Homo sapiens: one gene and its partners. The protein of the gene in region 1 purifies or fractionates together with the protein of each later gene. This does not show direct contact. Each region holds a gene or a part of one and is shown in the gene's direction. Other genes may lie near its edges. The genes, in order: INPP5K, USP47 and GART.

Region 1 (3,748 bases):
AGGCCTTGAAAGTCCGTGAAGATGGTATCAAATATCTGTGGCAGGGGAAGTAGCCTGGAGGCCAGGGGCCAAGCCTCTGAGCTGGCATGGTCAGTTTGCAGGAATTGAACTCTGGGATCATAAGCCTCCTTTCCGATGCTGCCTTTAATGACTCGTGGAGCAGTTTCCTCATGGATGTGCTTTCCCCTCTGAGCTTCATCAAGGTAACTTGCCAGTTCATTGGCACTTGACAACTGTGTTTTCACATCTCCACTGACCCCTGCTTGTTGGGTCTGATGTGTTCCTCTTACTCCTGCTCAGCCTTTCATGCTGTTTCCCATTTGTTTAAAGGGCTAAACCTCCCTTCCACCTGGACCCCGGGGCCCCTGCCTGCCTTCGCCTTTCTGAGGGAGCTGGAGTCTCCAGGGGTTGGGTTAACACCTGGATATGTTTCAGCTTGGGAAGATTCTGAGGGGAGGTGCAGCAGGGCTTGTCATCACCTCAGTGCTGGCCGCTGCCCCAGCCACCAGTCTCTACTCAAATGCCCATCCTGAAGTCTCTGAGTGTAATCATACGGCTGTCATTTATCAAGTGCTTACTTGTTGTTACACATCATAAGTAGCTCTTTATAGTATATATGTTATTTTAAAATCTTAACAAGTCTGTTGAAATAGAGATATTTTACAGAGAAAACCATGGCTCAGAAGCCACATGCGCTATCTGGGATTTGGATCCAGATCTCTCAAACTTCATAACCCAAGTTCTTAACTACTAATACCTTATTGCTATGCTGGTGAACTCTAAGACTGACAGATCTTAGGCGTGGCTAGCCTGCTGGTGTCATAGGGTATCCTCAGGTCATACGGGACGTGCACTTCAGATTCTGGGGGTCCAGAGGTTAGGAGAGGGGAGTCAGGTGTGGTGGGTACTTTGGGCGGCTTTCTTAGTCTGAGAGACCAGTATACTCTGGGGTGTCTTTAGACAGTAGGAGAGTCCACAGGAAGGCCCTGGGTTGCCAGATCTTCACCTTCACCTTGGTTCTGCCCTGCACACCTGAGGAATGAAACACACTCCCATTCACAGCACCTGGTATACAGCTGCTTAGAAATACCAGAATTCCCTCTTTCCCCTTCCTGGATGACTCTTGTTCTTCAGAATGGATTCTGTCAGCCTAGTTTGCCTGGGGGTACTGAGGCAAGAGCTGTGTGTCCTTTGGAGGGGGAGCAGAATGGGGAGGAAAGAATCTAAGGTTTAGAACTCCTGCTGAGGATAGAAAACACCAGCCCGAGTCCTTGGTTCCCTCCACATCAAACCCAGAGGCCTCCTTCTGTAGATAGGGAGCTAGATCCTTACAGAGGACACAACCACTTCTCTCTCACCCGCCACTCCCTTCCCAAGACTGCAGGCCTCCTTGCTTCTCGGCTGACTGGCAAAGGATTGGTAGGATGGAATTGAGCCAAGGAAATTAGCTCAACTTGTGGCAGAGACACAGCCCTTTCTACCCATGTGGCCTACTGAGATTGGGAGGCCAGACTGAGGGCCTGGCACCCAAAATGAATGCCCTTCTTTCCCCAGCCAAGAATCAGGGTGGATGGGTGAGCTCCGTGCATTTGCCAGCTATAGACTGAGAAGGGCTGACCCCCTTCCACTGCTCCAGGGCCCCCAGCCACCTCCTGCTAGTCCTTTCTTCGCTCCTCCTACTTCATTTCCTCCAACTAGAACTTTCCCTAGAACTCTCCTGCTTTTCCCACAGCCCCACCCTTTCTCCCAGTCTAACTCTGTCCTGCCCCGACCCCACCCTCCCCGCCCCCACTTCCCTGCTGCTCCTTCACAAAGCGAGCCAGTGTCTTTGTGGTGGAACCCAGTGGCCTAAAGCTGCTTTGTGGGTGGGGATTAAGCCTGAAACTTTTCCTGAGTCTTTATCAGTCCCCTTGCTTCAATCCTGACCCTGGGAGTCAGCCCCTCATGGTCCAGCCCGTCCTCCATCCCTGTTGGCACGTGTGCTTGGGTGTAGGAGAGAGAAGACTGGGGAGGAAGTAGGCTTGAGGACACACCTGTAGCAACCTCTGGCCCACCTGAAGTTCTGATGCCTCCCTTACCCAGTGCTGGGTTTGAGGTTCCCCCTGCTTCGACTCCGCTATGCCAGGGCTCGTGGCCTGCAGGATCAAGTTTCATAATTCCTGGAAGGCCCCAGTACACGCTCCCCACCCGGGGATTTCCTCCTTGGCCTCCACACTTCATTCTCCGGAAACGGCTCCTCGGGTGCCGGTGGTAGACAGCCTGAACCTGAGAGGGAGAGCTACTGGCTGCGGCCCATTCCCACCCCACCTTTTGCAGCTGCAGATAGTAGGGATCTTGGCAGTCCTAGCCCTTTGATGTTGTTTTACAATACAGGTAGCCCTACTGGTTCCTTAGCCTCCCTAAATCTTAGTTCCTCAACTACAAAACAGGGACGGTGATTCCTTACAGGCTTGGCAGGAGTAAATGAGAGAGGAGGCACTTGAGCAGATGTTAGCTATTCTCCCTAGCCTGTGCACATGTGTCCTTACCCACTGGCATTCCATGGGCGTTGCCTTCATGGACACCCAGCTGCACGCAGTATATAGTTATGGGGTTTGGGGGGAGCATTTTCTTATTTTTTTTTCACTGAGCTATAATGTACACAGAAAAGCATGCAGAAATTCAGTGTACACTTTGATGGGTTTTTGCATATACCCATGTTACCATCAGCCACATCTAGATAAAGAGCAGGCCGAGTACAGTGGCTCATGCCTGTAATCCCAGCACTTTGGGATTATAGAGGCAGGGAGATTGCTTGAACCCAGGAGTTCAAGACCACCCTGGGCAATATGGCAAGACCCTGTCTCTACAAAACAAACAAAAATAGCCGGGCATGTTGGTGCACACCTGTGGTCCTAGCTACTCAGGAGGCTGAGGTGGGAGGATTGCCTGAGCCCAGGATGTCAAGGCTGCAGCGAGCCGTGATTGCACCACTGCACTCCAGCCTGGTAGACAGAGCGAAATCCTGTCTCTAAGTAAAAAGGGAGGAATGGGGGCAGCTGGTGGATAAAGAACATTTCCAAGGAGAGAGGGAGGAAGGGAAGGGGATAAAGAAGAGCATTTCCCAGTATCCTGGAAACCTCTTATGTTCCTTCCTTTTAAGAATGCTTGGCCGGGCGCGGTGGCTCACGCCTACAATCCCAGCACTTTGAGAGGCCAAGGCAGGCAGATCACCTGAGGTCGAGAGTTCAAGACCAGCCTGGCCAACACGGTGAAACCCCATCTCTACTAAAAATACAAGACCTGGTGGTGGGCGCCTGTAATCCCAGCTACTTGGGAAGCTGAGACAGGAGAATCACCTGAACCCAGGAGGTGGAGGTTGCAGTGAGCCGAGACCACGCCATTGCACTCCAGCCTGGGCGACAGAGCGAGACTCCGTCTCAAAAAAAAAAGAATGCTGAAACCAAAAAATAATAGCTTTCAGATAATCCCCACAGCATCTATGAGATGGATTCCTACTTTATCAATGAGAAAATACACTGAGAAACTGCCTCAATGTCAAATACTAAGAATCAGAGCCAGGGTTTGAACCCAGATCTAACTTCAAAGCCAGTATCCTTAGCTTATCTTCTCTTCCCGCCACCCGCACGCCTAGGCGCAGAATCGAAAACCTCAGCCCCCAGAATGTATCATTTGGCAGCTGAGAAGAAGAATGGAAAGGCTTGAAACTCTGAGATTCAAACTGGGATATCGTAGACCCTGGAGCAGG
Region 2 (3,748 bases), on another chromosome or scaffold:
GGCCAGCACTACAGAAGACACCTTACTAAGTCATGGGATGACATTTTGAAAATAAAAGTTTGGAAATATTTCCATCATGTGATTTTGATGCAAAAATGATATATGTGAGCCACCCAAGTCTGGGACTATGGTGAAGCAAATGGTTTTCAAGGTGAAAACCGTTCACCTTGGGCACAAAATTTAAGGGGGGGGTGCCAAAAATTCAATAATCAAGACAACTAATCTTAATACAATATTTTAAAAAGTCAAAATTTATCTTAATCAATCCATGATAATCAAAATATCAAAACCTTAAAGACAAGATCTATAACTCCCAAAACTCATACATGAATACTTAAAACTTGAAGATAGAAATTTTCAACTTCTTAAAAATCTTCTAAGCAATTTATTCCAAAGAGCTTTGAACCCATTTGTAAAAATATAAAAATGCAACATCTTCTGGTTGACATCAGGAAAGATGGAACACTACTAGCTGAATTTCAATAAAAACCTTTGCATGGTTGTTGGATGGAATGGATAAAAATGAAACTTTTTTCATATCAGTTTTTTTTTTTAAATCGTTCTAAACATGCATTAGGAAGAGTGGCCAAAGATGTACTTCCTCCTTTAGGATCTACATCTTTGTGAGTTACCTTTTTTTCAGCTTATGACAGCCATTAAAACCAAGTACAAAAATAACCTGACGTTCAATCAGATATTTTAATAACTATTTCACGAAGTATTAAAGATTTTTAAAACTAACGAAACCTAGTCAATCATATTGATTTCCTTAAATATTTTTAGTGAGAATAACAAAGATTTTTATACCATTAATATGGAAAATAACTAAGTTATTTTAAATGTTTATGTCATCTTTGTCTTAGCCTTTTTACATTTTACAAATGTTTTATAATTCTGCACACAGCAGGACACGTATAAAACTTATATAAGTATATGGATTTTTTTTTGGTAACGGGATTACAATAAAAAAAAGTTTGGAGAACACAAGTGCAGGCAGTTAATGCTGTGGGTGTTAGGAACATGACAAGATTATATTATCTCAGCATGCTGTAAGATCACTGTATCCATAAAAGTCTTCATGAAGGAGCCCCGCCGAGTCTCCATAATGGAAGCAGGATTTGGAGAAATGACTTCTGCAAACTTTGTTTAGTATAACACAAAGCACCATGCTTACTACTAGAGAAGATTAAAATTCTCTAAAAACCTTGTTAACGGAGATCACAGGTTGAAGCATACTGCAGCTCTACTCTTGGAAGGCTAGCTCAGTCTCAGACTTGGCCCTGATGGAGAAGGAAGTTCCCTGGAAGAGGGCAGGGGAGCGCCTCTCCAATGTAGTTGCGGGGGGCGGGCGGTGAGGACACCGCTTCATAAGGGAAGGGGTGGCTGCCTCCCCAAGCAGGGGGTGGCCCCTGAGGTCCCTCCAGCTGGGGGCCCTTGAGAGGGAGGGTGGGGAGAGGGGAAAAGAACGTCAGGAGAGTGAACGGGAGCAAATAAAACGCTGTCCATTCTGACTGGAAGGGCCAGAGCCGTGTCTAAGGGCGGGGGCCGGGAGGTGGCCCGCGGTGGTGTCTCTACCAGGACGAGGCCTGGGGTATCTGAAGAGGGGATGACGTCCAGGCGCTTTGCTAAAGGGAAGCCAGAAGGGTATGAGTTGCTAGGGTCAGAGATGGGGCTTTCGGCTCGAGTCTTTCCCTGCAGGGCAGAGAGTCCGAAGAGCCCGAGAAGGCAGGGAGGACAGTGGGCCTGGTCCTTCCCCGGCCGGCAGAGGGAGTCCCGAGATGGAACGTCCAGCTCTCCTCTAACGAAAAGCGTTTGCATGGCTGTCTCGCCAATTCTGTACCTCCCGGGGCTGAGGAAGAGCCGAGGTGACTAGAAGCTAGCGACAAGTGCCGGCCACCTCCGACGCCAGGCGCCGGGCTTGGAGCCCGACGGGCCGAATTCTCGCGAGAGCGGCCGCCGCCATTTTTCCATTGATTGCAGCGGGCTGGGGGAGGGGCCGACGACGAAGGCGGCTGTGGTAGCGGCGGCGGCGGCGGCGGAGCCCTGGGTCGGTGTCTGCGCGCTGGTGTCTGAGGCCCAGGCTGAGGCCTCCGCTATTGCTGGAGCGCAGGCGGCGGAGAGGATGACTGCCGCTGCCATTCTCTCTTGAGCTAGCGAGCCGCCGCCACCCTCCACCCTCCCCCGGCAGGGCGGAGAGGAGCGGCCGGAGTCAGCGATGGTGCCCGGCGAGGAGAACCAACTGGTCCCGAAAGAGGTGAGGGGCCCCAGAGGAGGTTAGGCCTTAGGCCTGCGGCCGCTCGAGGCAACACAGGCCCGGGCCGGGGTTCGGCTGCGGGCCCGGCCGGGGTGCAGGCTCGGCTGTGGGGGAATGAGGAGGCGTGAGGCAGTCGGGGGTGGACGGTGGGTGCGGCGAGCAGTTGGGAGACCCGCTGGCTCTAGGGGCCGGGGAGCGGACCTCCCGCCTCGGGTTTTATGGGGCTGGACGAATAAAGGAGCGGACGGGAAAGAATCAGGTTCTGCTCTAGGGGAGAAGGTGGCCTTTTAAGTTCTTGTTTAACGTGTGGAGCCGGGAGAGATCATTTCAAAGAAAACATTCTGGAACAGTTGCCTATGGGCACGGCAGGGTGACGGTGCTGCTTCTGGGTTTGACAGTGGCAGCGTATAGCTTTCAGCGCTTGTGAAATCTACACCCAAGTGAGATCTGTGGGAGGGCAGACTTAACTGTTACGACTTTTTTCAACTCCTGTTACTTGGTAGTACTATTGGCCTGCCTAAATGGGGCCTACCGAAGATCGTGGAAAAGTAGTACATGGGACATTAATGTAAAGGAAGGAGATAGGAGAACATTACCACATGGAGAGCTGAACTCTTTTTTTTTTTTTTTTTTTTTGAGGTTGGGTTGTGTATGCCAATTTGAGTGACTTCTTAAATTCTTAAAAGCAAGTGATACGAGAAGCCTTGACTACTTGGCTTCTCTTGAATAGTAGTAGAAGATTTAGGGTAGAATCCAGCACTGGCCAGCGAATTTCAACGTATTAATAGTATCTCTGTTGGCTTTATAAATATCTTCGGCGTATTCAAATGTGTATTTTTAACTGGCTGATCATCAGGCTAATGCTTTGGATTTTTATTTCTCATATACCTTAAATAGAGACAAGTGTTGGATTGAAATTAACTGTGTGCGATCTTGAAATTAATGAGTGATCATTACAGATTCTTAAATTTTTTTGTGCCTGTTTTACTTGTTTTGTAGCAATTCTTTGTTACTTAAGCAAGCTCTGACAGTATGCAAGGGTGATATTATTGGAGTTATGTACCTGTATGATACAAGTATTTTCCCAGCTTTGTCAGAAGGGCAGTGATAGTTGTTTTGCAAGGACGATTTTTGTAAAAGGCAGAGAGTTATGTGTCAGTATTTGTTCATCAAGCGTCACCAACTCTGTGCAAAGCAGATAAACAGATGAGTTAATCAGAATTCTTGCCTTGGGAACTTTCTGAGCTACTAAGAAAGGGAACACTAGTGTTTGTTGAACTCCAATTAGGGACTAGGTACTTTACCACGTAAGTAATTCTTATGCAAGGAAGGAAGTGATAGGTGCTGTAAGAAAGGTATAAATGTGTATTTCATTTTAGAGCTTCATATTGCTGGTTTTCATTTTTATAAAAAACAAAATTCTTTCTTAATTTTTTGACCATTAGAAAAATATCATATAGGTGGAACTCTGCTTTAAGAAAACCCAACATTAGA
Region 3 (3,748 bases), on another chromosome or scaffold:
TTTGGGCACTTACAACTGGTTTTCGGCCCATTTTCAAATTCACGTACTGCTCTTGCTCTCAACTTTTAAAATACAATTAAAAACACTTGAACTCGGAACACTTACGTTTCAAGATCTCTTTCCTACTTCTGTACTTTAAAGAAATGAGTATCTTATACAAAAGCAAATATCGAGAGACAACCGCTGAACATGACACACTATTTTCCTAAGTAAACAACCATTTCTTTAACAATCTCTTCGCCTTCAAATTTTGTGAAGCCAAGCGCAAATTATGTAAAGTCTACCAGCAATGACAAAAATAGCGTGTCAACTGGGGCAGGGGTAGCAAGAAAATAATAGACCTACACACAAAGTCCACTTTCACTTGCTGTAATTAATCGCAACCATTTCAAAGTCCCCTTCCATCTTTATCTCGAGTATTTTAACAAACTAGCAAGTGCATCAGTTTGAGTTCGTTTTAATTGAAACATTTAACTATCAGAACGGCTGACAGATACTACAGGACACTAGGCCCCGAATAATCTTATTAATAGATCCAGACCCCCAAGCGGTCTGAAGCTCGCAATAATAAAGAGGATTTAAGATTAACCAAGAAACGGCCGTTAGAGACCCTTTCCGGTCATAGGCACCGGCCGGCAAAATCCGCGGAGGCGAGAGGGGGAGGGGATACGCGGCGGCGGAGGAGGAGCTGAGGAAGGAACTAGGCCCGTCCCTGGCGGACAACCGGGCCTACGAGTAGCTAAACGGCAGGGGGGACCCAAACAGGGGAGAAGGGTGAACATCTTAACTCGGTTCTGAAACAGGGAGTCTTGGGTTACCTCGGAAAAGGCGAAGTTCCTCGAGGGAAAAGGAAGGGAGCGGCTGGGGGGGCGGTTGGGGGGGGCCCGGAAAATGGATCCCAGGCCCAGGCGGGGCCCTAGCGGGGCCTGAGCCGGGGAACGACTGCGTCTCCGAAGAAAGGTGCCAAAGAAGGCTAGGTGAGGGCCTAACGGTCCGTTGGGAGCAGAAGAATCTGGGAGGCGTTTACCTGGAAAGCTCCTGTTGAATTTCCCGGAATTTACTGACCACGAAAGACCTAAAAATCTGCTCGATGTTGGTCGCCATGGCGTCCGCTCCGTTCTCTCAACTCCTCCTCGCTAGTCCTCCAGGCTCCCAGCATGCCTCGGGAGGAGGCGCACGGGCCAATTCGGTCTCTCGCCTTCCTGATTGGCTCCAAAGGGAATGCCCGGTCCGGCCCGCTCCACCGAGGGACCAATCAGTGAGCACGGCCCTGCTCTCCTCTGCTGTTTCTGAGCGGCTGGGGTAGAGGTGCTGACGTTTGCGCCGCGCACGACTATGTCCGCCATGTTAGTGTCTGACGCAGGCGCCATTACAGGAGCCGTCTCTCTTGAGGCGACCGTGTCCGCATAAGTTGTCAGTCCCCAGCAGTGTTTGGGAGCCTTAACAGGCTTGCTAAGTGCCTGAGATTAAAGGCGAAGAGGAAGAAGAGCAAGAAGGGCAACCCGGTGTTTAACACACGGCTTTCAGGCGCTCTCAGGTGGCGCCAAGTTCAGTTTCGACAGGGATATGCATCCGGGAGAGAATTTTTCAGCCCCCGCCCCCACTGGCATGTGAGAGGAGGAACTCGCTGTTGCCCTGTGTCTTCCCCAGTGCGTTCTATAACCAGCCTCATTTTTTTTTTTAGCAATAGGCCGGATGTCCTAAGCGACCGGCATTCAAAGCCCGGTGCATTTTAGTCTCATCAGGAGTCAGGCGTGTCACGAGATTTTTCCGCGGTAGCTGCTCAGCTCTGACTCGTGAGCGGCGCACAATTGGCTAAGAATGGGTTTAGCATTTTGGCGCTCCCCCCCGGCGCTCCTGGAAACACTGCGTGGCACCCCGTACCACTGTCACATTATAAACGTGCTAAGGCTTGGGTGTCTCGGCTGGGGAGCAGTCAGGCAGCGCCCAGGGCGGGAGGGAATCAGACTAGATTCTCGCCGCGGAGACCCAGGGCCGCGCGGACCAATGGGGCAGGGAAGCCGTCGTAGGGCGGGGCAGTGAGGGGCGGTGCCGCGCTGGTCCCGCGCCGGTCCCGGTGGGCCGACTTCCGGCGAGCGGGCAAGCGGGAACCAGGTGGCCACCCGGTGTCGGTGCGTAAACCCCCTCCGCTTTTACACGGAGCGCGCTTAGGCTTTGGTTTGGGGATTTAAGATCGCGAACTGAGTGAAACCATAGAAACTGATTTGTAGAAATTTTCCTGTTGTTTGTAAATGCGGTGGGTGGGGGTTGGCCATGTGCTTTTCACTTGCTACTGTTAGCTGGTTTCTATTTGCTCTTTTACTTTTCCTGTTTTCTAAGATGTCAAGGCCTTTTTGTGTCTTTATACATTTTTAGGACATAACCCTAAATTGGTGTACTTTCTCTTTATGCACCCGTTGTCTCTGGCAGATTACTTGGTTAATTTTGTAGTTGGTTTCTACTTTATTCTCCATATCCTCTGATACGGCTTTATTTGCCTGTCTTATTCTGCTTATGTTACCCATTCTGAGGAATGAGGCCCAAGGTTAGTGAAGTCCCCCAAGGTCTTCCTGCTAGTATGGGGCAGCGTCTCTACCCAGGCCAAGGCGCTGTGTGAGACTCAGGAGCCCAGGCGTCCTCACCACTGGGTAGTAAGGCTATTTTCAGTGATCCACTAGAGTAAACAGAATTTTCCCACACTACTGCTATATTCAAACTAAAGATGTAACATTTGCTCTAGATTTAAAGATCTGTTTATTTCTGGCCGGATGTGATGTAATCCCAGCACTTGGGAGGCCAAGGTGGGTTGACCATTGGAGGTCAGGAGTTCGAGACCAGCCTGGCCAACGTAGTGAAACCCCGTCGCTACTAAAAATACAAAAATTCGCCTGGCGTGGCGGCGCACGCCCGTAATCCCAGCTACTTGGGAGGCTGTGAGGCAAGAGAATCGCTTGAACCCGGGAGGCGGAGGTTGTAGTGAGCTGAGATCACACCACTGCCCTCCAGCCTGGGCGACAGAGAGAGACTGTCTAAACAAATAAATAAATAAATAAAATAAAAAATCTGTTTATTTCAGATACACATGGCAAGTAAAATGTGTTTTCCCGTTACACTAAAGTAGCTGTTCCTTCCGAGACTGTAATTTAACAGGGTTTTTTTTTTTCCTTTCTCAAATTTTCAATGATCATCGTTTCACTTGTTGAGAGAATCTGAAGCAAAATTGCTTCTGTTAGGCTCCACCCCCTCTTACCTGTGTGACCTCCAGCAAGTTATTTACCTATCTGGGCCTCCTTGTCTTATCTGCAAATTGGTGATAGTAATAGTATCTCCCTCATAGGATTCTTTCATGACAAGCATTTTAAATAGTACCCTGCCCAAGGTTAAGTGCTCAAAAAAATGTTAGTTTTGTATATTGTCAGCTTACATTTTTCTTAAAATATGTAATCCCAACATCATCAAAATAAGTTTTCAATTTTCTTTTTCCTGTTACCAGTTTGTCTTGTGGTAAGTAAATGTAACAAGTTAACATTTACTACTGCTGAGTGCCAGATTGTACTTATTTATAAATGTCATTTCAGTTAATCTCCTAGGTTACACTGCTGTTGTATCCATCCTTCTAAGTCTCAGGTGCCAGAACTAAAGTGAAATGAGTTGGAATTTGATTTTTGCCTTCTCTACCAATATTCTAGCATATTGCGCTATTTGAATTAGGAGTCAGCAAACTATGGCCCACATACCAAATCCTTCT

What was found.
Region 2: the proteins of INPP5K (region 1) and USP47 purify together in Homo sapiens (co-immunoprecipitation; 3 studies listed by BioGRID and IntAct, with this or other methods). This does not show direct contact.
Region 3: the proteins of INPP5K (region 1) and GART purify together in Homo sapiens (co-immunoprecipitation; 4 studies listed by BioGRID and IntAct, with this or other methods). This does not show direct contact.

What each region holds. Positions count from the first base shown.
Region 1 is NC_000017.11:1,509,908-1,513,655, reverse strand, and holds part of INPP5K (inositol polyphosphate 5-phosphatase K), read left to right. Parts: intron 1-94; coding exon 95-203; intron 204-3,748. UniProt on the Homo sapiens protein: Inositol 5-phosphatase which acts on inositol 1,4,5-trisphosphate, inositol 1,3,4,5-tetrakisphosphate, phosphatidylinositol 4,5-bisphosphate and phosphatidylinositol 3,4,5-trisphosphate.
Region 2 is NC_000011.10:11,839,971-11,843,718, forward strand, and holds the start of USP47 (ubiquitin carboxyl-terminal hydrolase 47), read left to right. Parts: upstream 1-2,001; 5' UTR 2,002-2,215; coding exon 2,216-2,254; intron 2,255-3,748. UniProt on the Homo sapiens protein: Ubiquitin-specific protease that specifically deubiquitinates monoubiquitinated DNA polymerase beta (POLB), stabilizing POLB thereby playing a role in base-excision repair (BER). Acts as a regulator of cell growth and genome integrity.
Region 3 is NC_000021.9:33,540,449-33,544,196, reverse strand, and holds the start of GART (trifunctional purine biosynthetic protein adenosine-3), read left to right. Parts: upstream 1-2,079; 5' UTR 2,080-2,132; intron 2,133-3,748. Other genes in the region: protein SON, read right to left, coding at 1,028-1,104. UniProt on the Homo sapiens protein: Trifunctional enzyme that catalyzes three distinct reactions as part of the 'de novo' inosine monophosphate biosynthetic pathway.